Regions from separate parts of the Homo sapiens genome. Here region 2 is linked to region 1. The links come from fine-mapping of genetic effects on gene expression. A gene starts in region 1. The other region holds a variant in brackets. All regions are shown on one strand. Distances are from middle to middle.

What was found. PIP is the estimated chance that this variant, and not a neighbour inherited with it, causes the effect.
Region 2: its variant is the best candidate, but not a certain one, in a credible set for the expression of DDX52 in lymphoblastoid cells (GTEx, PIP 0.56).

Annotation. Positions count from the first base shown.
Region 1 is chr17:37,642,053-37,644,970 of GRCh38, forward strand. DDX52 (DExD-box helicase 52) reads right to left here and starts at 1,394. Exons shown (of 15, transcript NM_007010.5): 1 at 1,282-1,394; 2 at 58-256. The coding sequence starts at 1,368. LOC105371756 (a long non-coding RNA gene) reads left to right here and starts at 886. Exons shown (of 2, transcript NR_188617.1): 1 at 886-1,484.
Region 2 is chr17:37,585,113-37,588,030 of GRCh38, forward strand. SYNRG (synergin gamma) reads right to left here. Exons shown (of 22, transcript NM_007247.6): 4 at 1,307-1,437; 5 at 213-318. Among named protein-coding and RNA genes, the nearest start is that of SYNRG, 23 kb to the right of the region's middle. The variant T/A (reference allele first, on the strand shown) is at 1,594.

The DNA.
Region 1 (2,918 bases):
ATTTTTATAACTGAAAAAAATTAAAGAGAAAAAACATGACAGAAATCAAACACTAACCTGAAGTCATCGTCTTCCTTTTTTTCTTGCTCTGCTCCCTCTTCCTTTCAGTTAGGCTCTCTTCTTTTTTCTCTCCATTTTGGGGCTTCTGATGTGTTTGTGATGCTCCACACACACCTGGGACAGACTTCTTGTTTCCAAAAAAGTCCAGTCCCTGAAGCACCTCCGAAGAATCAAAGTCATATTTCCTTTTTCCTATCTAAAACCCAAAAAATGTAAAATGAAACCTACTGACAGAATACCATTGCTTTCATTCAAGCAAGACTGTTCAATGACTCCTCATCTTTTCTACCCTTTCACCAAGTATCTGTCGAGCTAACAGGTGTCTGGACAAATGGAATCTGAAGAGACCTTCTCTGACCTCATAATAGTAACAAATTAATATTAGCAATGAACACATATATGCTTACTAAATGTCAAGCAGATTTCTAAGCATGTTTATACATATTAAATTGCTTCACATTTACAACTCTATAAGGTAAATAGCAGTATTACGAATGAGAAAACCAAGGCATTCGGAAATTAAGTAACTTGAGGTAGGTCTAAAAATGAGTAACTGGCAGACTTAGCATTTAGACCCAGATAATCTGGCTCCAGAGTTCATACTCACCAGTTAGAGAAAGAAGAAACACATGTCACACGCATATACACATCCAAACAACAAAGTAGACATTCAAGATTTTCCAGAATTGGGCCCCAATTGACCTCCCCCGATGTATCACTCACTACTTCTCTAGGTAAGAGCCCCCATTTCTTAATCGCTCTTCTCATTGGTTACTTAAGCCATGGGGTTGAAGCAATAAAAAGAATCACGCCCAGTACAACTATACGCATGCCAAGCCAAACTTGGGGAGACTATAGTAAGAGAATCTGTTTTCTCCATCTTTGGTTGTTTCTGTTTTCGAAATTCCTTTCCTCTAGGTTCGGAGAAAAAGTTCCTTTTGAAAGGAGGATTCCAACTTTGCTTTGAATAAGAGGGAGGAAAGAGGGTTTCCGTGCCAGGCCCAACTAGGTCTACAACAGGATAGTTAAAGAGCTTATTCAAAAGGCTTGAACCGAGCAGCCGTGCAGGCAAGCCGAACACAAAAGGAAGCAAAATACCCCAAGGGTGGCGAGAGCCAGGCCACGGGTGTCCAAGTGCGCCGGCCTCCCCCAGCAGCGGGTTCATTCCCGGGCTCCTGCTCCTTCTCAGTTACTCGGCCCTCGGTCCCTTGGGCACAGTACCTGGAATCGAGCTGCGTCTGCCGAGAAGCGTCTCGTGTCGAATTTGGCCCCCGCGCCGAGCCGGCGAAAGAGATCGTGGACGTCCATCTTTACCCAGAAAGCGCCACAGTTCTACGGCGCCTGCGCAGACTACTTCCCAGGCCCCGGGCAGCGTCGGAAGAGGGCGTGAGCATAATTGGCTCCTGTAGGCGGAGCCTGGCTGGGTGAGAAACGAGGCTATTTTATTATCGTGTACTCCGTCATTATTTATCTTTTTTTTTTTTTTTTGAAACAAGGTCTCTCTCTGTCGCCCAGGCTGGAGCGCAGTGGCGCAATCGCAGCCTCGAACTCCTGGGCTCAAGTGATCCTCCCATCTCGGTCTCCCAAACTGCTGGGACTACAGGCGTGTGTAAATTCTTTTAAAAAATATTTATCAGTATCCTCTTATGTTGGGCACTGTTCTAGACTTTGAGGGATACTATAGTAAACAACATCTTAAGATTCCTCTTCTTACGAAGCTTACATTTTAGTAGGGACAACAGATATTGTTAACAAATAAATAAGCAAAATCTCTGTAAAGTAATAAGTGCTATAAAACAAAAAGGTGTAATTGATAGAGAAAATGATGAGGGAGCTGACTTAGTGAAATTCACTCTGTTGAAGTGAAAACTTGAGCTAAGAGGAAGCAACCTGTCCAAGATCTGGGAACAGCATTCCAGATAGGGGAAACACGTGGCTGAAGGGAAAAAAATTGGAACCTTGAGGGAATAGAAAGAATGCCGGTGCGACTAGAGCCAAGTTGCAGTCTGATAGAGTAGTACAGATAAGGTTGGAGGGACAAACAGAAGCCAGATCTCACAGAATCTTGTAACAAGGTCATAGTAAGGAATTTGGACTTCCACCTTGGGAAACTATTTGAAAATTTTTATGGAGAGAAGAACATGATTTAGTTTATCACATTTAATTTTTTATATTTATTACATCTGTACGAAATTATTTACTGCTTATTGCCTCTCCCTCTTCTGGAATGTAAGTCCCTGAGCACAGGGATATACTTTGCTTCGTTATGTATCCCCAGTTTCTGTGCACTTTGGTGAATGAATGCGTGGATGTTTCATAAAGGATTACACTGGCTATTTGGAGAATGGACCATAGAAAAGCTAAGAGTGGAAACAGGTTAGTCAAAGTAGAATGATGATCATGGCTTGTCTAGGTTGGTATCTGTGCTGAGAGAGATAAATGGATTAGATCTGGCATGTATTTTGGAGGTAGAGCTAAACGTACCTGACGGATTTTATGCAGAGGTGAGAGAAAGGGAGGAATCAAAGATCACTCCTAGTTTTTTGGCTGAGTAGATGGCATGCCATTTACTGAGCTAAGAAAGCCTGAGAGAAGAAGGGCTTTCTGGTACAAGTGAGATACGGAGGATGGAATCAATTGTTATGTTTTGGACGTGTTAAGATGCCTACCTAGTTGACTTTAAGTGGAGACATCCAAGTAGGTAGTTGGTTCTGAATCTGAAGCTCAGGAACAAAAATTAGGGCTAGAGAAATTAATTTGGAAGTCATCAACATATAAATGATACAAAGGAGTTGTACCATATAAGCATTTAACTTATAAAAATTCAGTTATATGTATTTGACCAAAGAGAATGAAAC
Region 2 (2,918 bases), 57 kb before region 1:
TAATGGCTGATAGCCTATTCTCATTGACAGCAGTGTATCTTTACAGAAAATGAAAAACCCTTCACATTAGTAATTAGGTAAACCAAAATGAGAAGAATCAATCACAGCCTCAGCTTGGGCTGGTGCCCCAGTGACGAAATCCACTCAATGAGTGGGAAGAGGCACATTCAGGGTGTGTATGTTCTGGGTGAAGAGAAGTATTGAAATACTACCTTGGGTTTCACACTGCTCAAAAGTCTGAGCTTTTGCTTCTGCTCTTCAAACTGGCGTCTTTTTCTTTCTTCTTCTAAGAGTTTTTGCTGCTGTTCAAATCGTTTCCTGAAGGAAAAATGATCTAATAAAGAACCAGCTCCCGGGATTATACACTGTGTTTTATATTCAGATTTCTAACAGTTTCAGCAATATCATGTTGCACTTCCAGAAGTGTAAATTTCATTGCTAAATATCTAGTTTTCTTACGACAATCCTGTTTCCTCACTATATTAATTCCAAAATATTTGACATGAGTCTAAAGAATGATTTACCTAAATTATGTATATGAATTTATTTCTCATCTAATTTGCAAGAGGAGGAAACAAGCTTTTGCATATAAAAGTATTCTCGAAAAACAGGCAGACAAACATAAGAACACACTTTGCTCTGCATATTAAAAAAGAACCTGCTTGGGAAGGCAGTGTCATACAGCAGAAAGAGTAATGATTTGGGAATCAGGAAGCCTGCCTTTGGGTCCAGGCTTTGCTGGTAACTGTGTAACCTGGACTGACAAGTTGTTTCATTTTCCTGGACTTCACTTTCACTAGATATAAAACAAGAGGGTTGAATTACAGGATCTCTAAGGTCCTTTTTGACTCTAAACTTATAATAATGGTAGTTTAAAGAGGCTTTTTTGTTTTTGTTTTTAAACAGGGTCTCACTCTGTTACCGAAGCTGGAGTACCGTGGCATGATCACGGCTGACTGCAGCCTCAACCTCGGGGCCCAGGTGATCCTCCCACCTCAGCCTCCTGAGCAGCTGGGACTACAAGCATGAGCCACCAAGCCTGGCTAATATTTTGTATTTTTTGTAGAGACAGGGTTTTACCATGTTGCTCAGGCTGGTCTCGAACTCCTGGGCTCAAGCAATCTGCCCACCCCAGCCTTCCAAAGTGCTGGGATTATAGGCATGAACCACTGGGCCAGGCCTTAAGAGTTTTAAAGACAACTTTTGACTGTTTTAGTTTCAAATCTGCACTAGAGATCATTAGACAATTCTTAAGATAGATGCTATAATGTATCTTTGTTATCCTTTAATTCTGGTGATCTCTTACTGCTGCTCTTCGGCAAACTGCTTCTGCATGTCTGGAGTGTACTGTGGGCCTGGAGGACGCATGCCCAGGAAGGGTGCTTGTCCTAGGTAAGGCATTCCCGCTGCTGGCATTGGTCCCATTGGTATTCCTGCCTAGAAGAAACAGACAAAGGCTTAAAAAACACAATTTATCCCTTTAATTATCACACACAAAAATGTGACTTCCATAAATTCTATCTTAATACTCTTATTTGTAAAAAATAGAAATATATTGGATTAAAAGATGCAAAGATGCAAATAAATAAAAGA[T/A]GCAAATATACAAAGAAATATATTATATTAAAAGATGCTAAAAATGGAAGGCTCCCCTTAATATCTAACCCCTCCATTCCCTTCACTGTCCCAGAGGTGACCACTGTTAATACTCTGATTGGTGTGTTATGGAACTATATGCCCACAAGTTATATTCTTGTGAGCTCACTAATCCTCTTTGAGAAGAGGCATTATATCTTATATATTTTCATATTTGCAATAATAGGTAAGAGCCTGGCATATGGTAAACATACCACAAATGAAATTAAATCTGATTTTCCAATATATATGAGAGGATAATGAATATTTTGATGTTATCAAAGGCCTAATAGTCAAACTTTTATAGAAAATGACACATATTCAATAAAAAATTACATAATATTATAAAGTTTGTTAAAGTGTCCAGAAATAATAATAACACAATAGCTAATCACAAAATTTAATAATATTATGTTTTTAGAGACAGGGTCTCGTTGTGTCACCCAGGCTGGAGAGCAAAGGCGCAATCACAACTCACTGCAGCCTCCAACTCTTGGGCTCAAGAGATCCTCCCGCCTCAGCCCCAGAGTAGCTAGGGCTATAAGCGTGTGCCCTCGATGGCACCTGGCTCAAAATCTAATATTAAGAATGATGACAATGACAATAATTAAATGGCTAATTTTTAATGAGTGAAAACTCTTCTACTACTCAACCTTCTCCCTGAAAAGTTCCTCTTCTGTCCCTAACTAAAGTCTGTCCGTGAAACACTCTCATTTGGAGACTGCTACTTCTCTTCTATATTTCCTGTAAGTGGGGAATATTCCTCCTTGCTTCTTCTAAACCTTTTCTCTTCTCTCTACCTTCAAAAACCTGAATACATTTTAATTTCTCACTAACAGACTTCATCATCTACTATCCGATCTTGTTCATGTCATCTACTGACCCTCAACTTCCTCACTCTTCAGTTGAACACTTCAGACATTGCTGTCTTCCATTCTACCCCCAAACTGCTCTTGGTAACGTCAACAATCACCCACATGGGTAACTCACCTAACACTGTGTGGTCTTCCAGGTCTTTAGCCTCCTCATCACAATCATGCCCAACATACAATTCCAGCTTCCCATTCCATGGTAATACCCATGATCTATCTGCACCAAAGACTGTGTCATGTCCAAAATCTGGATGTTAGGCATCCCGACACTTGACCACCACCTCCTATCCTTCTAGCTCATCTAGATCAGTAATTCTCCTATCTCATTAATATCTCCCACCTGTTAATTTATTTTTTTTCCGTGAGCTTATTTTGTAGGTTCCACCTGTTAATTTTGCCACTTTTCTCATGATT